7 linked regions of the Homo sapiens genome follow. The protein of the gene in region 1 purifies or fractionates together with the protein of each later gene. This does not show direct contact. Each region holds a gene or a part of one and is shown on either strand. Other genes may lie near its edges. The genes, in order: SLC28A2, DDX46, DNAAF8, LUC7L3, SRP54, SFXN1 and SRSF11.

Region 1 (4,289 bases):
TGTGGTGGTACACGCCTGTGGTCCCAGCTACTCCAGAGGCTGAGATGGGAGGATCACCTGAGCCCAGAAGTTAGAGGCTGCAATGAGCCATGATAGTGCCATTGCACTCTAGTCTGGGTGACAGAGCAAGACCTTGTCTAAGGAAAAAAAAAAAAAAAAGACAGAGAGCTTGTGCTTGAGGAGATCACTGTCTAGTAGGCGATGGTATGTGCTCTATAGGGTTCAGCAACAACATGGTGCAATCAGAGTGCAGGGAGGGGTCCTAAGTTTTATCCAGAGGGCGTCATAGGAAGCTTTCTTTCTTTCTTTCCAGGCCAGGATAAGTGTTACCAGCTCTGTAAAGTCTTTCTCTCCCTCTTTTTTTTTTTTTTTTTTTTTTTTGAGATGGAGTCTCGCTCACCCAGGCTGGAGTGCAGTGGCATGATCATGGCTCACTGCAACCTCTGCCTCCTGGGTTCAAATGATTCTCCTGCCTCAGCCTCCTGAGTAGCTGAGATTACAAGCCTGCACCACCATGCCCGGATAATTTTTGTATTTTTAGTAGAGATGGAGTTTCGCCATGTTGGCCAGGGTGGTCTCGAGCGCCTGACCTCAAATGATCCGCCTGCCTCTGCCTCCCAGTGTGCTGGGATTACAAGCGTGATTCACCGCGCTCGACCTGCAAAGCCTTTCTTGACACATCCGTCTTTCCTCACTGATCTGTTCGTTTTTTGATGGCAGAGACCTTGTCTCACTCATTTTTATGTCCTCACACGGAAAACGGTGGCTGGCTAATAGTGGTTACTCAATAAGTATTTGTTGAATGGATTAATAAAATAATTCCTAGCAGTCATTTGGCATGGAATCATGTACAGTCGTGCTGTTTATTGTTTTCTAGGGCATGTCTTTCCAGCACAAAATGATGGTAAATTTTCTGGGTGCAGAGACGGCTCTTACTGTATTTTACAGGCTACCCAGTGCCTAGTCCAGTGGTGGGTAATGCTTACAGGAATGTACCTGTTAGAAGTTCTTACAGAATTCTTTTGTTTTGTTTTGTTTTCTGACAGGGTCTCACTCTGTCGCCCAGGCTGGAGTGCAGTGGCGCAATCACAGCTCACTGCAACCTCCACCTCCAGAGGCTCAAGGGATCCTTCCACCTCCGCCTGCCGAGTAACTGGAACCACAGTCGTGTGCCACCGCGCCCAGCTAATTTTTGTATTTGTTGTAGAGATGTGGTTTCGCCATGTTATCCTGGCTGGTCTCAAGCGATCCGCCCGTCTCGGCCTCCCGAAGTGCTGGGATTACGGGCGGGCGCCACCTCTGCATAAGTCTTAGGCCTGCAAAACAGTCTTAAAAACATATAATATTTAACTTGAGAGGTGCAGTCCTCCTCTACATTGAGGGCAGGCTCAGCGAAGGAGGGCCCAAGACATAAAACTAACCAATGGCAGGAAAGCCCCCATGCCCCACCCAAGCTGCCCCTCCTCCCTCGCAGCTGAGCTTTTCTTTCAGTCCTTCACTGAGGAGCCAGAGGGAATCAATTCCACAAGCTGGGGTAAGTAAAGGTGTTTGGGGGAGGGCAGGTGCCTAATTTACAAATTTTTAAAGAGATCATATTTAAACTAAATGCAGGTAGTTTTGTGCCTAGTCAGGAAGGCCCTAATTTACACAATATAAGTTGGTTATGTGTGTTTAATGAAATTATACTTCAAATGCTTGAAGAGATCACATTTTCAAAAGCAATTCCATGGGGAAGGGAATTTTCTGCAAAGTAAATAAATATCTCAGAATGAACTTATATTCTAATTGTGAATGTCCATGTATTAAATTTGCTTATTCTGAGGCCCAAATGTTTGCTTATTTTGTTTAAAAACTTTACTTGGGATCATTAACATTCATACTAATTATTTTAAATGTAAGTTTTGTTAATTTCACTGATGAGTTCTCTCTGGGGCATAAAAAACCAATTCTTATGCTACATTATAGTCAGGAATTTGAAGGCCTGTAAATTGTTATCTGTTCAGCAATACTTTAGGGTCCGGGTCTTCCCAACTGCCTTCCTCCCTGTTTCCTTCTTACTCAGCAAGCTCAGTGGGGCCTCCCTGGGGCTAAAAGGAGTAGTTACCCTGTGACTCTTTCTTTGAGGGTCCAAGTAGGAACCTTTATAGCCCAGATCCTGGGGCCCTGGGCGGCCCACTGATTCATTTCAATTCCACTGCCTTTCATTTCTCTTCTCCTATCTTACTGCCTCTTCTTTAGCTATTCACAAGAGGAAATAGGATTTTATTTTTCATTATTTATTATATAAAAATTACACATCCAATCTTCTCAATTCTCAGTTCTTAAAGAAATCAACTAAGCCTTCAAAGACTTTTAGTTTTGCGTTTTCCATGGGTAACTGGTCCTAAAAATTCTCCCCATCCCCACAGAACAGAATGACCAATCTTTCAGGCTTGGCCCTGAATTTGTTTTTCAGTTGAGGAGAACAGGAGATGGAGAAAGCAAGTGGAAGACAGTCCATTGCTCTGTCCACAGTGGAGACTGGCACAGTGAACCCGGGGCTGGAGCTCATGGTAATCACCAGTTTAGTTTCTCTCTGCAGAGCTGTGGGCTGCTGCATGGGCTCCTGTAGGGTATTTGGCTGCTCTCAATCCCCATCATCCCTGGCAGGGCTCCATGACTGATCCCAATGCTCTCTGTGCTTGTAGGAAAAAGAAGTAGAGCCTGAGGGAAGCAAGAGGACTGACGCACAAGGACACAGCCTGGGGGATGGACTGGGCCCTTCCACTTACCAGAGGTACTGGTGTTTTGGAATCTTGTTCAGTTAGGAAAGGATCTAGGGTGGGCTGCCCCTTCAGGCAGCTTGTGGTATTATCACAACCGCTCCACCTTACCATGTGTACATATATATATGTATCTTACATAATTAATTAACTTAAACATGTGCCATAAACTCCATAAAAAAAAAGGAGTTCAGCAGTATCAGTGTTGGTTGGACTGAAAATAAAAATAATAACAATGGTAATAATGGCTAACAGATTTTGAGTGTATACTTACTATTTTGCAGATTGCTTTATGTTATACATTTATTTTCATTACAACAGGTAGGTATTCATTTTAATCCCTTTAGAAATTAATTTACCATATCATTAAAAAAACAGTAGCTCTTCTGGAATACTCAGATTTGGGAATGGTGGAGAGGAAGGGAAACCTGGGGAGAAAACACAGAAGGACTTATTATAAGGATAATAAAGACAGTAAAAAAGATCTTAGAAGTCAAAAGAGAAGAGTCTCAAGAATGAAGAAGGTACAGTCCACAGTGCTATGTGAACAGGGGTCTAGGAAGGAGGAGTGAGAAAAATCTTTGAATTTGTTTGTGGATCTGGTCCCAGAAGTAATGTCAAAGAAAATTGTTTGAGTAAAATAGATCATATGGAAAGAAGCAATGTTCCATGGTCTGGAAAACAGTGGGTATTTATAAAAGAGTGCAGAAGTCATACACTAAAAGCTGAGAAGAGGACATTGGATAGCTTCTAAAGGGAATACGGTCATGAGCTACATAATGATGTTTCAGTCAATGATGGACCGCATTATACAATGGTGTATAATCATGTATATCAACGGTGTATATCATTACACAACGGTGGTCCCATAAAATTATAATACTGTATTTTTACTGTGCCTTTTCTATGTTTAGATATGTTTAGATACACAAATACTTACCATTGTGCTATAGTTGCCTACAGTATTAAGTACAGAAACATGCTGAACAGATTTGCAGCCTAAGAATAATAGGATCCACCATATAGCTTGGATGTGTCGTAAGCTATACCATCTAGGTTTGCATAAGTACACTGTAAGATGTTAGCATAATTATGAAATTGACTAATGTTGAATTTATCAGAATGTATCCCTGTTGTTAAGTAACACATGACTATATATGGAGATGATTCAGAGCAGCTTCCAAACAAAAGGTTATTTTTATATTTTCTTCTCTTTATTTTTGAAAGTTACCTCAGTGACTTCTTAAAATTTTTAATTGTTTTATTCACAATTTGCTTCTCTCTAAAAATTTTTATATTATCATGTTTTATATATACTGAATTGACAGTAAATTCTTTGTAAGTTTTTCATGCTTACATGATATTTCATATTTTACTTAGCAGTGTGGCCGTTAATCATGTGAGTCACATTGCTTGTGTCTATATTTGAACAGTGGTATGCTAGTAAATGTTTAAGAATTGACTCTCCACCGGGCTAGTGGCTCATGCCTGTAATCCCAGCACTTCGTGAGGCTGAGGTGAGAGGAT
Region 2 (3,422 bases), on another chromosome or scaffold:
CTCCCGGGTTCAAGCGATTCGCCTGCCTCAGCCTCCCGAGTAGCTGGGATTACAGGCATGTGCCACCACACCTGGCTAATTTTGTATTTTTAGTAGAGACTGGGTCTCTCCGTGTTGGTCAGACTGGTCCTGAGCTCCTGACCCCAGGTGATCTGCCTGCCTCAGCCTCCCAAAGTGCTGGGATTACAGGCATGAGCCACCGCACCCAGCCTACATATCCATTTTGTAAGAGTGTCACTGTGGCAAAACCCCAACTGGTAAATGAACCTATTATTTCACCTATGTTTCTCTTATGCTAAATACAATGAACATAAAAGACTTAAGAGCCTTCTTCAGGAAGACATTTTTGGAACAGAATTATAAATATTTTGGGTAATAAGTTGCTAGAATTTTTTAAATAAAAATAGAGAGTATAATACTTCTCTCACCAACATAAACAAAATTAGAGAAACAGAAGAAAGAAAAAGCATTGAGGAAAGATAATTTTAAGAAAGTGCAGATTGAATTCGAATTAATTTTATTTTATAAGGAATTTAGAAAACATGAGCAAATATTCATATTGCATTAAAAAAACAAAGTCTATATATCATTCAAATTTTAAAAGTCAGTGTGACACTAAAAAATGTACTAACAAAGTAATATGTTTCATTTTAGAACAAAATTTTATCAGTGGCTCATCACAACTGATATACAAACAAAATGCTAAAATGATGTAAAACTGAATCTCAAAGTGATCCAGTTGGATGAAGGGAGCACCAATTATCATCGATGTGGGACTGCCATATACTCTACCAAAGAAAACAAACTACCATTAGGTGATAAAGATGAGCAAATAAATAAACTAGAGGGAGGGAATGAGCCCACAATTTCTGAAATTTTACAGTAAGTGGTTTATTTGTTTCTGTTGTTACATGTCTTTTGTCTGTTTTCTTCCTTCAAGAAATTAAGTGGATGTGTGAAGGATCCAAGAATATTTCCCAGGTATATCTTACTTTTTCAGGAAGAATAACTTTATACTGAAGAAATAATGATTAATACTCCCTATCACTTCAGCCACTGAATATACTATTAAAATTATTTGTTTTTACAACTATAGTATGCTTTTATTTATTTATTTTTAAACTGTAAGTCAATAATATTTAAAGAATGAAAGTCTCTTCATTTAAGAAATATACAGTCATCCTTTGGTATGAGAGGGGGACTGATTGCAGGACACCCCTTAAACCCCTCCTCTATACCAAAATCCATGGATGTTCAAGCCTCTTATATGAAATGGCTTGCTATATGCATATAACCGATGCACATCCTCCTGTATACTTTAACCGCCTGTATACTGTAACCTTTAAATTACTTAAAATACCTAACACAATGTAAATGTTATAGTAAAACTTTTACAGCTGTTAAACTGTATTTTTAAAATTTTACATTCTTTTTTTCTTTTTTTTTTTTTTTCTATTTTTGATCTGTGGTTGGTTTAATCTGTGGGTTTGAAACCCTTGGATATAAAAGACTGACTTTATTTAACTCCTGAAAAAAATTCCTTTTTTGAAAAGTGACAATAACATGAAGTTAATACATCAGGAGTCTTGAAAAGAATATTAGGTAATCCAATTATAACAATTTAAATTAGAATATTCAGGAACTGTATCTTGAAGGCTCAAAAATACTATTTATTTATTTATTTATTTATTTTTGAGATAGTCTCACTCTGTCGCCCAGGCTGGAGTGCAATGGTGTTATCTTGGCTCAGATTCTTCTGCCTCAGCCTCCTGAGTAGCTGGGATTACAGCCACCCACCACCATGCCGACTAATTTTTGTATTTTTAGTAGAGACAGGGTTTCACCATGTTGACCAGGCTAGTCTTGAACTCCTGACCTCAAGTGATCTGCCCACCTCGGCCTCCCAAATTGCTGGGATACAGGTGTGAGTCACTGCGCCCAGCCTCAAAAACACAATTTATGATTCCTTGTGAATTAAATTTCACTAAGATGAAGCACATCTAAGTTTAAAACTTGGGTACCATTATGTTTTACAATTTTTAAGAAAGAAAATTCACAACCTACTCAATAATCCTGAAGAAAAATCAGATTAAAAGTAGTAGGATATTTGTACATACAACATGTATAGATATATAAATAAACACTTTCTAGAAGGAAAAGGTATCATATTTAGTATTTATAGGCTACACTCTTTCTTTTAAGGAAGATTATAAAAGAGGGGCTAGGTATGGAGCCAGAAGTTGTGAGGGAAACCTCAAAGTAGTAAATACTATAACTCTTTGTAGAGTTTTACACTCAGTGTAAAGAAATGCAAAAAAATCCTTATACTATTAAATCTTTACTTGTATAAAAACCGAAATTAGTCCAACTACTTTTTGCCCATTTATGATGATAAAAATTGAAACAAAAACTCTCAACCCATTTTGTAAGACTTCTATTATAACATTCTTAAATCCAGTTCATATTGTTCCAGAGTCATGTAACATCAAGGTGGGGACACAAAATATGATAGTGAATTTTACCTTTTCTTAGGAAATGATCACAATTTCATTGAAAGTACAGGATAAAGTGAATAGCCCCTTAACGACTTGTGTACTTTATTGTCTTCAATAGAAAGTTCAAATATTTCCATTTTTTAAACCTCTAGAATATTATCCGGACATTTAAAATATTGATATTTGAGTTTACATTAAAGGACATCATACTCTGAAAACAGGCTGGCTTTAAATATAGTTTGACTGATTGTGGGGGTACTTACGGACAGATTTCTTTACCAAGTACCAGTTTCTTATATTTAAAAAAAATCAGCAAGATAGAATTTAAAAAATCTTCATTTACAATACATTGTAAACTGCAGACAGCAACTGCCACATACATCATAGACCAGCACAGGTAAAAATCTTTTTTCCGGATGTCTATAAGACTTTGTATCTTCCTTTATTTGTTGGTTGGTATGAATTTTGCTGTAATAGGAAATAAAAGATATGTCATCAGAGAAAGCAAAACAAAAAAAACAAAAAAAAAAAACGAACCAACCAACCAACCAAACAAACCCAAAAGGAAATATTTAAGATCATTTCCTTTGCCAACTTATAAAACTATTGGTTATTTAAAATTTTAAATGTTACTATTACTGCATTGAGAAAGGAAAAACTATTCAATAACTAATGAATTCTCTGTTCACTCAACTATTCCTTAACAACTATGTTTTGAATCAACCTAATGGTGGTAGCATCTATGGGCACAAGATTCTTTTCGACCACTCCTTGGTGAAATAGTATTAAGCACATGATTTAACAGCTGTTTTACTTTTTCCCTCTTGTTTTGTGAACCCACTTTTCATTAAACTTCTAACCACCCCCACCCCCCAACAAAAAAAGGAATGCTCTGTGAGGGGAATTTTAGAAAAGCTCTCAGAATTA
Region 3 (2,680 bases), on another chromosome or scaffold:
CCAGGTGCCTGCGTGTGCTGTGATGTTATCTCATGCAGTCCAGTGAGGGGGGACTCCCATTAGTCTCCTTTTTTTGTTTTGTTTTGAGACACAGTCTCACTTCATTACCCAGGCTGGAGTGCAAGGCACGATCTTGGCTCACCACAACCTCCACCTCCCAGGTTCAAGTGATTCTCCTGCCTCAGCCTCCTGAGTAGCTGGGATTACAGGTGCGCACCACTACGCCTGGCTAATTTTTGTATTTTTAGTAGAGATGGGGTTTCTCCATGTTGGTCAGGCTGGTCTTGAACTCCCGACCTTGTGATCCACCCACCTCGGCCTCCCAAAGTGCTGGGATTACAGGCGTGAGCCACCGCGCCCGGCCATGATTCTCCTTCTGTGGGTGGAGGAACTGGGCACTGGGAGCGTGAAAACCTTGCCCAGGTGGCAGAGCCAGCTTTGGACGCAGGTCTGACTTCCTACCTCACTCCCCTTGCCTTGACAGACACAGTAATTCAGAGTTGAACTTGGAACAGAGTTTATTTTCCATCACTGTAAAACATTCTCAGTGAGGTTACTGGCATTAAAAAGGTGGGAGAAATGGAAGAAAATGGGGTTGAAGAAAAAAAAAGCCTTTGCTCTTGACAGCTAGGCAGCCACAGCGGAGGCCGCCAGGCTGCGAGGGCAGCGTATGGGGGCAGAGCCCGGTTCTGGCGGCACAGGCCCCGGAGTGGAGGGGGCAGGGGAGGGTCTCTGTAGGTGGGAGAGGGCCTGGGGGCTGGGAGGCAGCCTGGCCTTGTGCCCTACAGGAGGGACCTCCTGGGACTTTATGGAAGCCTGTCTTGCCTTTGACTTGCAATGAAAATGCCCCTCATCATTGGGAGTGGGGTCGGGTGGGGGTCCCCAGTGGCCAGATCACGTGGGGTCCAGAGAGCAGACATCTGTAGCCCTGATCTTGGCGGCCAGTGACCACGGCCAAGCAGGGCCTGTCTTTTGCCTGGTACAAGGCTTGATGAGAAGAGACCCCTGCCCATCCTCAGTGGCCTGGCAGCCAGGGGTGAACCCCAGGGGAAGCTGGGACACTGTCCCAAAGGCCCGGCGCCCTACTGTGCTGCCTGAGCCCGTGGCACCGTGGGGCCCAAGGTGGTGATGATTTCTCTGCTCTTCCCACGGGGCAGACAGCAGGACACATCCTGGAGACAAGGTTGGGGAGACAAACAGGTGCCCAGGTCAGGGCTGATCACAGCAGTTACAAAAGCATCCCGTGAAGACGGGGCTGCAAGACGGTGCTGGCAAAGGAACAGGACCCAGGAAGACCAGGCTTGTCCTGTGGAGGGGCCGGGTCTTGGCAGGGGGCAAGCAGATGTCCCCAGTTTTTGCTGGTGATCAACAAGTGAGGCCGCTGCTCCATTCTACACAGGACAGCATTTCCAGGGGTTTCCAGTATTCTGTCTAGATTCATAAAGGTCAAAGGCCTTGAGAATCTATGTGTGCCTTTCTATCTTAGGTAAAGAAGAGAAAGAGAAAGCAAATTCTCGTTACTCCTCTTTCAAAAAGTTCATTAAAAGCCAGGCTGGCAGCTCACAGTGCTATAATCCCAGCACTGTGGAAGGCCTAGGCAGGAGGATTGAGAGGAGTTCCAGACCAACCTGGGCAACACCGTGAGACCCCATCTCTACAAAAAAAAAAAAAAAAAAAATTAGCTGGACATGGTGGTGTGCACCTGTAGTCCCAGCTGCTGCGTCTCGAAAAGAGAAAAAACCACGTGTATTAGATCTGTGTGGGTAGGCATGTGTGTGTCGTGTGTTAATTTAGGTGCCCAAAATAGCAAGTATGCAGGAAGCCAGAAAATAAGGCTTAGGTCTCTTTCAACCCTAAAATCCTCTAAATACGTTTTACTTGGTTTTTAAAAAGACCTTATTGATGGAAATAATAGATGCCTGTTTAAAAAAATGCAGAACTGGAGAAAGATGAAGAGCCTCAGAGTCCCGCAGAGAGCAGCACCCCGTCCTCCTGCTGTCCCTGCCCATCTCCCTCAGAGGACCAGGCCCCTTTATCCCAAAGCTGTTGTCACAGGTTACATACAGATTTGTATCTGCATCCTTCCTCTAAGTTCATGCACCTGTGACTGAGCTCTAACAGGGTGGGCAACAGTCCAAAGTCTGAGGGTCCCTGCCTCTGGAATGCCCCTGCTAGTGGAAATGCAGGAACAACAAGGGGACACCGGGGCCCAGGGTCCATGGCAAGTCAGCCCGCCCCTGCCCACTCCTGGGATCCCACTACCTGAGGCAGCTATAGTTGCTCCAGAGGAGGCATCAGGGCCTCCCTGGCTGCCCCTGGCTCAGGAACATCCCCCAGGGCTCTGGGCCTGCCTCTTGGGAGTCGAGCCTGGGCGCTCTGCCCCTTGGCACAGAGCTTCATGTGTTGCTTCCTCCCAGTTCGTGATCCAGCTGTGTCTTCAGGGGCCTGAGCCCTCCCACCCGCGGGCCCCTTGCTGGCAGGCAGCTCGGGCTGGGCTGTCCCCTTCTGAAAGGCCCTGAGCTGCTGGAGAAGCTGGCTTTTCCCGGTACAGGTCCTGTGACACAATGAGACCAAATTCACTCAACCCCGTGGGGGCCGCCCCTCCCAGCCCTCCTTACTGAAACAGGAGAAAAGCAGATGAGCCCAGCTCCCATTTCAGAGCAAGAATGCAATTCAGGCA
Region 4 (3,500 bases), on another chromosome or scaffold:
ATTAATTTGGTAGTAGATTCTAATACTGTACTTTTTTCTCCTTTTCATGATGGGTAATAAGTGAGCAAGCAGCACTTGCGAAGCGCAGTTTCAAGTGAAGGATGCATCTGTGATGCAAAATCATCGACCATTTATTTGTAATGGTGTGTATGTAACCTTCACCAAGGTATTTTACTGGGGCTAGTGCTTTTACAGGCATTTCCAACTTTGTAGATTGCTACCTCTGGATCTGAGAAACTGCAGCTAAAGTGAAGTCGGCTTTAATACTGTTTCATGGATTCATTGGTACACCCTCCCACCGTGTTTATTTGTATTTTGCAATTGTTTGAGATTATTGTTTTGGTTTTTTGCACTAAGCAATTGCTTGGTTAATCCTAAACAACCACAGTGATGAGGAAAGCATGTGATTGTAACTAACTGCCTAGGGTGAGTACCTTTCAGTGAGGGTTTGATTTCAGTGTTAGCCAGAGAAGGCACTAGTAGCCATATTATTAGAAGATTGTAGTAAATTGTAAAGTCTGATCGGGAGTTTTGTTATTTTTTATGTAGCAAGACAGAAATTTTGTAGTTCAAATTGAGGTTTTTATATTCTAGATCTCAACCTGAAAATGAAATTACTTAATCATTAACACTGATTCTAATATCTGAAATGAGTTTTCTTCCATTTATCAAACTCAAGCCTACCCTTCCTTCCATGAAGGTTTAACATGAAGGTTTAATAATTTATGAAGGAAATTGAACTATGTTCTTTTCTAAAATCTTTGGAATGTTAGCAGATACTGTCATTGACACTGAAAAGTTGTTTAGAAAAGGAAAAATAGCTAAAGCTTCTGTCCACATTTTTTACTTGTATACTTTTTCTTTTTGCTTTAAAAATGTTCAGAATTTGGGAGCAAAAATTGAAAGCAAAAAACTAGTAATTATAATGCATGATGGCATCTATTAATATGTATTTTACTAGTTTTCATTCAGAGTCACCAAAATGTTCATAGTAACTTACTATGTTACTATGGAGTAAGATAGAAAAGCATTTTCTACCCTGCTCCCTGCCCCCCCCCCTTTTTTTTTTTGAGACAGAGTCTAGCTCTGTCACCCAGGCTGGAGTGTAGTGGCATGATCTTGGCTCACTGCAACCTCCACCTCCTGGCCTCAGCGTCCCGAGTAATTGGGATTGCAGGTGTGGGCCACCACGCCCGGCTAATTTTTGTATTTTTAGTCGACAGGGTTTTGCCATATTGGCCAGGCTGGTCTTGAACTCCTGACCTCAAGTGATCGGTCCGCCTCAGTCTCCCAAAGTGCTGAGGTTACAGGCGTGAGCCACTGCGCCCGGCTGGCATTTCCTACCTTACTCCATAGTAAAATAGTAAGTGTTGGCTTCTCAGAATTGCCAGCAGTCCATGTGTTATATGTGTATGTAATTGCTATTTGCTTTTCTTCCCAAAACATACAGAATTAGAGTGAATAGTATAATAAATTGAACTCCCCATGTACCCATGCCCAATTTAGCAATATTAGCACATAGTCAATATTATTTCCTCTGTATCCCTTCCATTATTTTGAAGCAATTCTGTTATTGTCAACCTTAAAGCGGTCATTGTATATCTGTAAAATACAAGGACTTTAAAAAAAAAACATAGCCGACCGGGCATGGTGGGTCACCTGTAATCTCAACATTGGGAGGCCAAGGCAGGCAGATCACTTGAGGCCAGGAGTTCGAGACCAGCCTGGCCAACATGGTGAAACCCTGTCTCTAATAAAAAATAAAAAAATTAGCTGGGCGTAGTGGTGCATTCCTGTAATCCCAGCTACTCTGGAGGTTGAGGCAGGAGGATCCTTTCAACCCAGGAGGCAGAGGTTGCAGTGAGCCGAGATGGTGCCACCACAGTCCAGCCTGGGCAACAGAGTGACACTCTGTCTCAAAAAAAAAATAGAATAAAATAACCACAATACCATAATCACTGAAAATTATAGTAAGGTATTTCGTAAATCTTTGGTTGCTTTAGGAAAATTGTGTGTGTGTGTGTGTGTGTGTGTGTGTGTGTGTCATTATATATGTTATTAGCCTTGATTTCCTCACAAAAGGAGAAGGTAGCTTAAGTTTGTAAATTTGACTTTTTTGCTAATACAGTTCTTCGTTTTATGAAATATTTTCTCTTTTTTTTTTTTTTTTTACCCCCGAGATGGAGTCTTGCTCTGTTGCCCAGGTTGGAGTGCAGTGGTGTGATCTCAGCTCACTGCAACCTCCACCTCCCGGGTTCAAGCGATTCTCCTGCCTCAGCCTCCAGAGTAGGTGGAATTACAGGTGCATGCCACCATGCCTGACTAATTTTTGTGTTGTTGTAGAGATGGGGTTTCACCATGTTTGCCGGGCTGGTCTTGAACTTTTGACAACAAGTGATCCTCCCTCGGCCTCCCAAAGTGCTGGGATTACAGGGGTGAGCCACCATGCCCAGCCTTTCTCTTCATTTCTTATAGTAAGTTAGGAAAATTGTTGTATTCATTTATCCAACAAAAATGTATTGCTCGGCTGGGAGCGGTGGCTCACGCCTGTAATCCTAGCACTTTGCGAGGCTGAGGCGGGTGGATCACCTGAGCTCAGGAGTTTGAGACCAGCCTGGCCAACATGGCGAAACCCTGTCTCTACTAAAAATACAAAAATTAGCCAGGTGTGGTGGCGCACGCCTGTAATCCCAGCTACTCGGGAGGCTGAGGAAGGAGAATCGCTTGAACCCGGGAGGTGGAGGTTGCAGTGAGCCGAGATCACGCCACTGCATTCCAGCCTGCGTGACAGGAGCAAGACTCCATTTCAAAAAAAAAATTAAAAGTATTGCTCTTAGGTAGATAACAGCAGGATAGTACAGATACAGCACTTGGTCCTAAAGAGCCATCATGTATTGGTGACAGTAAATGCACTTTTTTTTTCCAATGGGGATTATTCCAATTGAATGTAAACGCATTTCCATAACAGAATATGATAAATCCTACCATTGGGAAAAGTAAAATTGACCCTTGAACAACACGGGTTTGAGTTGAGTGTGTCCATTTATACGTGGAGTTTTTTCAATAAATATATTGGAACATTTTTTGGAGATTTGCAACAATTTGAAAAAACTTGAAGACGAATCACATAGCTTAGAAATATTTTTAAAATTTAAGAAAAGATAAGTACATCACAAATACATAAAATAGATGTATATACTAGTTTATCATTTTCCTACCACAAAATACATACGAATCATAAAAAGTTAAACTTTATAAAAACTTATGCACACAGTACATGGTGCCACTAGCAGTCCAGAGAAAGTAAAGCTTGAGTAATAACTGCATAAAATTAACTATAGTACATACTGTAATACTGTAATAATTTTGTAGCCACCTGTTGCTATTACAGTGAGCTCAAGTGTTGCCAGGCTCCACTTAAAATGCCCTATGACCTGTGACTCTTGATAATCTCTGCATGAGCAGTTGGTGTCTAAAGTAAATTGCATATCACAGTAAAA
Region 5 (3,500 bases), on another chromosome or scaffold:
CATGATGGCTCATGCATGTGATCCCAGCATTTTGGGAGGCCAAGGCGGGCATATCATGAGGTCAGAAGTTTGAGACCATCCTGACCAACATGGTGAAACCCCGTCTTTACTGAAAATACAAAAATTAGCCAGGCCTGGTGGCAGGCGCCTGTAATCCTAGCCACTTGGGAGGCTGAGGCACGAGAATCCCTTGAACCCAGGAGGCAGAAGTGGCAGTGAGCCGAGATCGCACCACTGCACTCCAGCCTGGGCAACAGAGTGAAACTTTGTCTCAAAAATAAATAAATAAATACATAAAAATTAAAAAAAAAATTGGAAAAACGTCAAATGTCTAATAGTAGGGCGTTATTTAATAAATGATACAGCCATCTGATAGAATGCTGTATAACCTCAAGGTTATGTGTTACAGAAATATTTTTTCTTTTTTCACCCGTGTTAATTTTTAAAGAGACATGCCATGGTCTTGCTCTGTTGCCCAAGTTGGAGTGCAGTTGCATGATCATAAGCTCACTGCAGTGTCGAACTCATGGACTCAAGTGGTCCTCCTGCCTCAGTCTCCCAAGTGGCTGGGACTATAGGCATATTCCACTATGCCAGCTAGTTTTTTTTTTTTGTAGAGATGGAATCTCACTATATTGCTCAGGCTTGTTACAAGAATATCTACTGGTTTTATAAAATGCTTCCAAATGGATGTTAAATGGAAAAATGTGTGAAACACTGTGAGCATGAGTTCAATTATTAAAGAAGATATAAAAAATAAATTTGAAGGAGACACAATTCATTCAAAAAAGACATGCAGTAGAATCATACTGGGTTTTGGAATTGGAAAATTGGATAATGCTTCATGCTTTTTTAGAAGTAGATTCTGTATTTAATACTTTATAGATTTTCCTCTTCTAAATTGAAATTGGGGTCATTTTGGCTTTTTCAAAATAGATTATAGGTAAATTAACTTTCCGAATTAGTAGTATTTGGAAGTTTTGTCGTTTTGTTAAATCATTTGTCCATGTTATATAGCTATACAGAAATGGATCCTGTCATCATTGCTTCTGAAGGAGTAGAGAAATTTAAAAATGAAAATTTTGAAATTATTATTGTTGATACAAGTGGCCGCCACAAACAAGAAGACTCTTTGTTTGAAGAAATGCTTCAAGTTGCTAATGCTATAGTAAGTAGCTTTCAATGTAACACTATTATTAGGACTTTGGTTAATTTAATTATAAAACCAGGTTGAGTATATGACCAATATAAATTATTCTTTGCCTGTGAGGCAGATCCCCAGTAATTTATTTTTGTTTTGGGCACCTATATCTATGTGGTAGGGACTTAATTTCATTATTTTTGTTCTCCATTAAATATAAAATTTTCATAAGTATGAAAAAGTAATTTCCTTTCTCAGTCATCCTATTAGTATGCATAAGAAAACATTTAAAAATTAGTAATTAGGCCGGGTATGGTGGCTCACATCTATAATCCCAGCACTTTGGGAGGCCAGGGCGGATGGATCACAAGGTCAGGAGTTCAAGATCAGCCTGGCCAACATGGTGAAACTCCGTCTCTACTAAAAATACAAAAATTATCTGGGCATGGTGGTGGGTGCCTGTAATCCCAGCTACCTGGGAGCTGAGGCAGGAGAATAGCTTGAACCCGGGAGGCAGAGGTTGCAGTGAGCCAAGATCACGCCATTGCACTCCAGCCTGGGCAACAAGAGCAAAACTCCATCTCCAAAAAAAAAAAAAAAAAAAATTAGTAATTAGCCTTTAGTTTCTGTTGAATTTCCTTTTTAAAAATTCAGTTGGAAATACTTAGATTTTTAAATACTTTAAAAAATATTAATTATCATTTTGTGTCTCTTTAAAAGTGTGATGGAAACAATTTGGGGGAGGAGAAGCAGTTTATAGATATCTGCAGCATATATTATTAGGAACCCACGTCTTGACATTGGAGTGTTAGCAGTAATTCTTTGGTTTGTGGTTAATGCTAATAAGTTTCTTTTCAGTTATGTTGTTATTTTGACCAAGTTGAGCAGATCTAAGGGAAGTAGCCTCAAGTATATTTTATCCGTTTTCAGTATACACTCTTCTACTTTGATTTGCCTTTGTACTTTTTTTGCCTAGATTGCCATTCTTTCAAATCTTTGCATATAACCTTTTCCTCTTTATTCAGGCCTCAGCTCAAACATTAGGTCCAGAGAGGCCTTCCCTGACTACCTTACTAGAAAATGCCTCCCATACTTCAAAACTGATACTCTGTATCCCATTTTCGTTGTTATACATCTGAAATGTTTATCTATTTATTATATATGTCCTCTGACTAGAATGCAAGTTTCTTAGGACAAATATTTTCTCATTTACCTTTTTGTTCTCATGACCTAGATGGTACCTGATAATACATAGTACTTCAACAAATATTTATGGATTGAATAATTATTTATAGTGTAAATGTTGTAGTTTTTTTTTTTTTTTTTTTGAGATGGAGTTTCACTCTTGTCGCCCAGGCTGGAGTGCAGTGGCATGATCTCAGCTGACTGCAACCTCTGCCTCCCGGGTTCAAGTGATTCTCCTGCCTGAGCCTCTCAAGTAGCTGGGATTACAGGCACTCGCCACCATGCCTGGCTAATTTTTGTATGCTAATTTTTGTATTTTTAGTAGAGACGGGGTTTTCACCATGTTGGCCAGGCTGGTCTTGAACTATCTCAGGTGATCCACCTGGCTCGGCCTCCCAAAGTGCTGGGATTACAGGCATGAGCCACTGCACCTGGCTCTAAATATTGTTTTATAGCTTCTAATGATGACATTTGCTTAGGATCAATAAAAATCTTTTCTAAAGTATCTTTTCTATTTAAACTTTCTAGCAACCTGATAACATTGTTTATGTGATGGATGCCTCCATTGGGCAGGCTTGTGAAGCCCAGGCTAAGGCTTTTAAAGATAAAGTAGATGTAGCCTCAGTAATAGTGACAAAACTTGATGGCCATGCAAAAGGAGGTGGTGCACTCAGTGCGTAAGTATCATTGATACTGTTGTCCTCTGTCTTGGGATTATATGGGGAAGGATATGTGTTTATAGCTTTCATATTGATCATTTAAAATATGTTTCAATAGTGAGCCTAATATGGTTTATAAAGAAAGTTTAAATAGAAACAATTTTGGAGCCTGTCTGATATAGGTCTATTATAACTTGTGAAATGAAACTTGAGTTTTGTACCTTTGTCTAATTAGCTTTGGAGGCGGATTCACTTCGAATTTCAGATCTGCTGGAAATTTGTGGGGTTCTTTTGAGGTTATTTTATATTTTCTTTTTTTTTCCAGAGTCGCTGCCACAAAAAGTCCGATTATTTTCATTGGTACAGGGGAACATATAGATGACTTTGAACCTTTCAAAACACAGCCTTTTATTAGCAAACTTCTTGGTATGTACAGTGGTGGGGATATAGAAAAATCTCCAAGAAATACGATGTATCTTTAGGACAAAATAGGATTTTAATTCTGTCCTCACTAA
Region 6 (3,500 bases), on another chromosome or scaffold:
ACTTTTTTTTTCAACCATTTGACAGAAAGCTTCTGTCACTTTTAGGCTATTTCCACTGTCACAGTAAAAACAGTTTGTAGCAATTCTTTAAATTATTACATTTGAATTCATTAGATTGAAAACTGTTCTGATTTTCTAAATTTTTGAACAGTAATATCACATCCTCTGCCAGCCAGAAAGTTTTATAATCTTGAAAAGAACTTTACTTTTAGGTTTAAGTAGACAAAAATAAAAATATCAGGAACTTTTTCTTCCTATATTAATAAAACAAAGGGCACAAGGCAGGGAGGATGGTGTAAAGAATCCTGCCTTGGAGTCAGGCAGAAACTGCTTCCGTACAGGCTAGACCAGGGGCCCCAACCCCTGGGCCATGGACTGGTATGGATCTCTGGCCTGTTAGGAATAGGGCTGCCCAGCAGGAGGAGGGCAGTGGGCAAGTGAATGAAGCTTTAGCTGTATTTACAGCTGCTCCCCATTGCTTGCATTACGCCTGAGCTCTGCCTCCTGTCAGGTCAGCGACCGCATTACATTCTCACAGGAGCCTGAACTCCATTGAGAACTGCACATACAAGGGATCTAGGTTGCCCGCTCCTTATGAGAATCTAGTGCCTGATGATCTGTCACTGTCTCCCATCACCCCCAGACGGGACTGTCTAGCTGCAGGAAAACAAGCTCAGGGCTCCCACTGATTCAACATGATGGTGACTTGTCTAATTATTTCATTATATGTTACAATGTAATAATAATAGAACTAAAGTACACAATACATTTAACGTGCTTGAATCATCCTGAAACCATCCCCCTGACCCCTGGTCCATGAAAAAATTGTCTTCCATGAAATGGGTCCCTGGTGCTAAAAAGGTTTGGGACCGCTGGGCTAGACCACTTGCTAGCTGGGTGACCCTGGAGAAGTTACCTAACTTCTCTGAGCCTCAGCTTTCTGTTTTCTTTTTCTATAAAATGGAGGAAATTGGAGACAATACTGCATGTAAAACACTGGGTATGCGGTGGACAGCATTCGTTCATTTGCTGACAACTTTTATCAGGCTAAACTGTCATATCCACTATTTCAATATGTCAATTACTCTTATAAATTGCACTAGGACAGAAAGATTGTATTTCTTCTCTGGGGACTAAATAGTGTTTAAAATAACCAAATCACTAGAAATGGATTTGTCCGTCTGGACTGGCTGAACTCTAAGAGGAGTAAGGCAATTCAAAACAGAAAAGACCACAATCAAAAGCAAACCCAGGGCCGGACATGGTGGTTCACAACTGTATACCTAGCATTCGGGGTGGGTGGATCATTTGAGCCCAGGAGTTCTAGACTAATTGGGCAACATACCAAAACCCTGTTTCTACAAAATATACAAAAATCAGCTGGGTGTGGTGGCGCACGCCTGTAGTCCCAGCTACTGGGGAAGCTGAGGTAGGAGGATCACCTGAGCTCAGGGAAGTTGAGGCTGCAGTGAGCCATGATCACAGCAACTGCACTCCAGCCTGAGGGACAGGGCAATATCCTGTCTCAAAAACAACGACGACAACAACAAACCAAACCCAGGGCAGAAGCTGGAGCCGCAACCTCGATTTCAGCAAATCTGGAAATCAGGGCTCAGTAGGAACACCGGGGTGGGCTCCATAGCCTCCTTTTAGGTTAGTGACAAACGTGCTGGTCCCTGGACTCAGGAGATGCTTTCCCATGTTTCAGGACTGTGGCTGTGCAGCCACCCCTACAGAACACATTAGCCTCAGGCAGGGCACCAAGGCACTCCTGTGTTAAACCAGATAATAGCAGTTTTCCCCCAATTTGCTGGAATGTGAATATCATATTCCTCAAAGTTTTCCTTCATGCACTTTTCAACTTTTGTTGCCTGCTCTTCCTTGCCTGCTGATGAGCAGTCACAGTGACAAAAGGAATTTAAAAACCGCAAAACAGTATCAATGGATGACTTGACAGCAGCTGATGAAGTATACTTCATTGGAGAGCTTCATTTTAATTGCCAAGCGCTGTTTGCATTCAGTTTAGATGATGAAAATTAAACATACTAATTTCTGTTTTTTTTCTGTGAAGAGCACTCTAACTGCCAGGCCCTCTGATTTCTCAGTCTGAGAACTTTCTTTAGGCCCCTGGTCTGAAGGTAGCTCTAAGCAGCCTTAGGGTGGACTAGAGATTCTCAGCAGAACTAAATACAATGTAGACTTTCTATTTTTGGTCATTCTGACCCCAGTCCCTATAGGGAAACCTGAGCAGTTGCTTGGCACACATTTTATCAGTAGCTGCTCTAACCATTCCAATTTGCTCCATCAGTTCCTTCTGGTCAAATTCCCACTGTATGGCCCTGGTCCAGCCCATCACTGCCTCTTGCCTGGATTACTGAGGCAGCCTCCCCGCACAGCCTCCACTGAATATTCTCATTCTCCTTCAGCCTATTCTCAACCCACCACCCAGAGTCACACAGATAAAACCTAAGTCAGACTGTGCTGCTCCTGTATGCAAAACCCTGCCTGGCTTCTTACCTCTCAGACTAAAACCCAGGTGTGAAACGCCAGGGCTGCCATCCACGCTCTGCCGTCTGTGGCCTCCTGACTCCCTTCCTACTGCTCCCCACCCCTCCCACTGTGCCCCAGCTGCACCTGCACCCGTAATGCCTGTAACACACCAGGCAAACTCCTGCCTGTGGTTCCCTCTGCCAGAATATTCATCACCGATACCCACTTGGCTCACTCCCACACCTCCACCCAGTGCTCTTCCCCGGCTGCCCTACCCACACGCCCTAGCCCCATTGCCCCCTTGCCCTCATCACCACTGCACATACTACATACTTTATTTACTTGTTTATTTTCTGCCACCCCCAGTGGAAGGCAATTTCCACTAAGAGGTGTGATATATGTGTTTGTTTTCTGGTTCACGGATCCGTGAACGCTGGTTCAACCTGTATTTATGGAATAAATGACAAAGTCCTGCTAACCCATGCCAGGGGCTGCCATGAGAATCCTGGACACGACAACTTGCGTGATGGCTTGTTTCGCAGCGTTCGCCGACTCCCCCAAGCGGTTCCCATTCTCATCCGTGACGGGAATGCCAACTTTGAGTTCCCTGCAGAGCAAAACACATACAGAGAGCTCCACCAATGCCTTCAATAAACGTCCTGAAATAGTACTATGTTGGGAAAGATCAACCCTCTACTTAATTCAAATACCCACTCAAGTGTCATTTTTGGTACTGACACATCTGTTTTTTTTTTTTTTTTTTTTTTTTTTTTACAGTCTCACTCTGTTGCCCAGGCTGGAGTGTAGTGGTGGCTATCTCCACTGACTGCAACCTCTGCCTCCCGGGTTCAAAGCGATTCTCCTGCCTCAGCCTCCCGAGTAGCTAGAATTACAGGCATGTGACAGTGTGCCGGCCAATTTTTGTATTTTTAGTAGAGACGGGGTTTTGCCATGTTGGCCAGGCTGGTCTTGAACTCCTGACCTCAGGTGATCCACTCGCCTCGGCCTCC
Region 7 (3,500 bases), on another chromosome or scaffold:
CCTTTTTCCTAAGAGTTTGGTAAAAGGAAACACATATAAATTGTAGTAATCATGAGGTATATCCTATTGCAGAGGTTAAACTAAACTATGAGAGCACTGTCATGGAAGATTAAGACTGCAAGCATTGTATCTTGAAGAAAGAAAAAGGAGTTCCTCAAAGCGGAAATGGAAGATGTGGAAAAGCATTAGGCAGAAAGGATCATGAGCAGAAACATGAAGACATAAAGAAAATGGTATGTTGAGGCAATTAGTCCTGTAACTTTTGGAGTGGCAAATGACACGTGTAAAAAGATAAACCAGACGGAATAGTAAAGAACCCTGAAAGCCATTCTAAGGTTTTATGTATCACCTTATCAAGGCAATAAGGAACTTCTCAGTATCTGTGACATGATCTGTATTTGGGTTTCTGAAAGACAACTCTAAGAATAAGACAGTGGGATAAGGTGGGTGACAGGGAATAAACAGACATAGCATACAGGATAACCCCTGTAATACTTCAAGAAATGACTTAAAATAAGAAAATGATATTAAAAGATAAAAACAGAGTGAAAAGATCATCTCTGAGACAGAAATGTGACTTTTTAGATATTTTATGATATAAGTGCTTTTAATAGAGACGTGACAAAGTCTAGGATTCAAGTCACACTGCTCTTTCAAAAATCCTGACAATAAATAGGAGAAATGGTTTTATCTAACCCTTGGTAAAAACTAAGGGGTAACGGACACTAAGAAAAGGCAGACAACTGACAGAACTAGGTTCCAGAAGAGATGAAGCCAGGAGTGAAGGTTTAAGAGTCAAGTGGTGAATGGCCGGGCATGGTGGCTCACACCTGTAATCCCAGCACTTTGGGAGGCCAAGGTGGGTGGATCACCTGAGGTCGCGGGTTTGAGATGAGCCTGACCAACATGGAAAAACCCAGTCTCTACTAAAAATACAAAATCAGCCAGGCATGGTGGCACACACCTGTAATCCCAGCTATTCGGGAGGCTGAGGCAGAATTGCTTGAACTCAGGAGGCGGAAGTTGTGGTGAGCCAAGATCGTGCCATTGCACTCCAGGCTGGGCAACAAGAGTGAGACTCCGTCTCAAAAAAAAAAAAAAAAAAAAAAGTCCAGTGATGGAGGGGTATGTAAAGTGAAGCTGAAACTGGCTGAAGTAAATAACCACAACTGGAATATCCTAGTTCTGAATGTCAATCCTAAAGGGTTCTGACTAGAAGAACTAGGATGCAACTAGGCCAATTAGGATTGAGTTTGGAAATTAAGAAAATCGAAGAATGGCTGAAATAGTTGGTGAATAACCTAGAGCAATGGCTTTTATATTGTCGTTTGCACAACTGTGGATGCTCTAAGACCCTTTTATGGGGTCCATAAGGTCAAAATTATTTTCAAAGTAATAACAAATTATTGCCTTTTCCACTGTGTTGACGTTTGCACCAATGTCACAAAAGCCATAGTGGGTAAAAATACTGACTCTTCAACACAAATCAAGGTAGGGGCTATTGAACTGCCCTAGGAGTCACTCACTATCTTCTTCACTGGCATTTCTGTATGCACTTGCAGTAAAAGAAAAAAATAATGCCACTTTTATAAAGATGTCTTTGATGAAGCAGTAAAGTTAATTTTATTAAATCCCCCTTCAGTACTATTAATATAGTAGCAGAATTAAATCTAGTCTCTTGAGTAATATTCTGTGTGATGAAATGGAAAGTATGCATAAATCACTTCTGATGCTTATGAAGTATAATGGCTGTATTAAGGAAGACACCTGTGTTGAGTTATGAGCTGAACTAACTGCTTTTTCATTATCACCTTTGAGAATCTAGAAACTATGATTAATTAGACTTGGGTATTTGGCAGACAATTTTTTGAAAAATAAATGAAGTCTATTATATAAGGAAAATAGATGAATCTGTTGCCAATGATAAAAATCTGAGAAAATTAAATTTTGGAAAATGACTCCATTGTTGTGAGCATGCCAGATTCCTAGTACTTGCATTTTACTGATCTGATCTAAGGTGATATTACCAGATGTCACTTTTTGACACTAGATAACAAATACAAGTCAGTATTTGGAAACTTGTATAATTCAATGAATCAATTATTTTTCATTTTGTTGCTCTAGTTCCAATGCTTTCCTACCACCTCTGAATTTTTGGGGGTTTTAAAGCATAAATCATCTATTTCGTCTGTCGCTTTTCTTACTTTTTACATGTGTGAACAGTCATTCACACATTCTAACAGCAGAGGTTACTAAAACACTTTAACCAGAGGATAACAGATTAACAGCAAATTAAAAAAGATGTGACATATATAAATTATCTTTGTCTAAGGTATAATTGACTAAAAAGCAATCTAACCTGTGTCTAGAAGATGAGGGAGTCCTCCTCCTCCTAGAACGTGATCTTGATCTTGAATGCCTTCTTTTTTCTTCTTTCTTATCTATATTTAAAAGAAAAGGAACCTGCATTTAGAAGTTATTAAATAGGGGCCAGACGCAGTGGCTCATGCCTGTAATCACAGCACTATGAGAGGCTGAAGTGGGAGCAACACTTCAGTCCAGGAGTTCAAGACCAGCCTGGGCAATATAGTGAGGCCTCATCTCTACAAAAAATACAAAAATTAGCTGGGCATGGCGGTGTGTGCCTGTGGTCCCAGGTACTTGGGGAGGCTGAGCTGGGAGGATTGCTTGAGCCTGGAGATGGACGGTGCAGTGAGCTGTGATTGCACCACTGCACTCCAGCCTCGGCAACAGAGTGAGACCCCTCAAAAACAAAAACAAGCAAACAAAAAAACACATCAAATAGGAAGATTATTCCCTTTCAGAAGTTATTCTAATAATTTTTCACCTTAGTTTTCAGCTTTTACATACAACCCTTGAATGTCACAAGTAACCATTTTATAATCACGATTTTGAAGCTTACTGAAATACTATAAATTGCAAATCATCCAAGCTTTTGGTAGATCCAAATTAGACTTCTAATTCTCAGCTAGCTAAAGGTTCCTTTGCCTATTTTACTTGCCAGACTTAAGAGGCTGTGAAGTGTTTTCTGTAAAGCAGTCTATAAAGAGGGTAAATTTCTCATTCTCTGGCTCTGATTTACTCTTGACAAGGTTCTAAATGAGGGGTCCCCTTTCCTTTCCTTGATTCTTCACAGACTCAATATTTGGCCCCCAAATGCAGAAAGTCATGATTCACTCACTGATTTTAGTCCACTTCTGTGACAGAATCAGATTTTAGTAAGCTAGCTCGCTTCCTATTATCTGCTCATCACTCCTCTTCCCTACCAATTTTCAATTGTGTAAATATAGAAAGGAAATCTAGAACTACACATAAGAAATTCCTTAACTGGGGACATAACAAGAGAAATAAAGTCATTGTATTCTACATTCACTGACTATCATCAAAGTGAGATTGAGTTTCTTTTACATTTAAGTCATTTCATTAATAGGGTTCAATTTATTGTGAATGTCATTATAATAAATTCATAAAAATATTGG

Evidence for each region.
Region 2: the proteins of SLC28A2 (region 1) and DDX46 purify together in Homo sapiens (affinity purification with mass spectrometry; one large-scale study listed by BioGRID and IntAct). This does not show direct contact.
Region 3: the proteins of SLC28A2 (region 1) and DNAAF8 purify together in Homo sapiens (affinity purification with mass spectrometry; one large-scale study listed by BioGRID and IntAct). This does not show direct contact.
Region 4: the proteins of SLC28A2 (region 1) and LUC7L3 purify together in Homo sapiens (affinity purification with mass spectrometry; one large-scale study listed by BioGRID and IntAct). This does not show direct contact.
Region 5: the proteins of SLC28A2 (region 1) and SRP54 purify together in Homo sapiens (affinity purification with mass spectrometry; one large-scale study listed by BioGRID and IntAct). This does not show direct contact.
Region 6: the proteins of SLC28A2 (region 1) and SFXN1 purify together in Homo sapiens (affinity purification with mass spectrometry; one large-scale study listed by BioGRID and IntAct). This does not show direct contact.
Region 7: the proteins of SLC28A2 (region 1) and SRSF11 purify together in Homo sapiens (affinity purification with mass spectrometry; one large-scale study listed by BioGRID and IntAct). This does not show direct contact.

Annotation. Positions count from the first base shown.
Region 1 is NC_000015.10:45,250,745-45,255,033, forward strand, and holds the start of SLC28A2 (sodium/nucleoside cotransporter 2), read left to right. Parts: upstream 1-1,489; 5' UTR 1,490-1,534; intron 1,535-2,455; 5' UTR 2,456-2,471; coding exon 2,472-2,552; intron 2,553-2,687; coding exon 2,688-2,776; intron 2,777-3,121; exon of another isoform or gene 3,122-3,190; intron 3,191-4,289.
Region 2 is NC_000005.10:134,828,200-134,831,621, reverse strand, and holds the end of DDX46 (probable ATP-dependent RNA helicase DDX46), read right to left. Parts: intron 2,964-3,422; coding exon 2,916-2,963; 3' UTR 501-2,915; downstream 1-500. UniProt on the Homo sapiens protein: Component of the 17S U2 SnRNP complex of the spliceosome, a large ribonucleoprotein complex that removes introns from transcribed pre-mRNAs.
Region 3 is NC_000016.10:4,747,217-4,749,896, reverse strand, and holds the end of DNAAF8 (dynein axonemal assembly factor 8), read right to left. Parts: intron 2,555-2,680; coding exon 2,272-2,554; 3' UTR 2,263-2,271; intron 1,659-2,262; exon of another isoform or gene 1,173-1,658; 3' UTR 501-1,172; downstream 1-500. UniProt on the Homo sapiens protein: In cyliated cells, dynein axonemal particle-specific protein required for deployment of ODA to the axoneme. Interacts with outer dynein arm (ODA) subunits.
Region 4 is NC_000017.11:50,722,603-50,726,102, forward strand, and holds part of LUC7L3 (luc7-like protein 3), read left to right. Parts: intron 1-3,500. UniProt on the Homo sapiens protein: Binds cAMP regulatory element DNA sequence. May play a role in RNA splicing.
Region 5 is NC_000014.9:35,010,492-35,013,991, forward strand, and holds part of SRP54 (signal recognition particle subunit SRP54), read left to right. Parts: intron 1-1,017; coding exon 1,018-1,168; intron 1,169-2,854; coding exon 2,855-3,003; intron 3,004-3,310; coding exon 3,311-3,411; intron 3,412-3,500. UniProt on the Homo sapiens protein: Component of the signal recognition particle (SRP) complex, a ribonucleoprotein complex that mediates the cotranslational targeting of secretory and membrane proteins to the endoplasmic reticulum (ER).
Region 6 is NC_000005.10:175,513,060-175,516,559, reverse strand, and holds part of SFXN1 (sideroflexin-1), read right to left. Parts: intron 3,098-3,500; coding exon 2,970-3,097; coding exon of another isoform or gene 2,965-2,969; exon of another isoform or gene 2,824-2,964; intron 1-2,823. UniProt on the Homo sapiens protein: Amino acid transporter importing serine, an essential substrate of the mitochondrial branch of the one-carbon pathway, into mitochondria.
Region 7 is NC_000001.11:70,238,380-70,241,879, reverse strand, and holds part of SRSF11 (serine/arginine-rich splicing factor 11), read right to left. Parts: intron 2,442-3,500; coding exon 2,360-2,441; intron 1-2,359. UniProt on the Homo sapiens protein: May function in pre-mRNA splicing.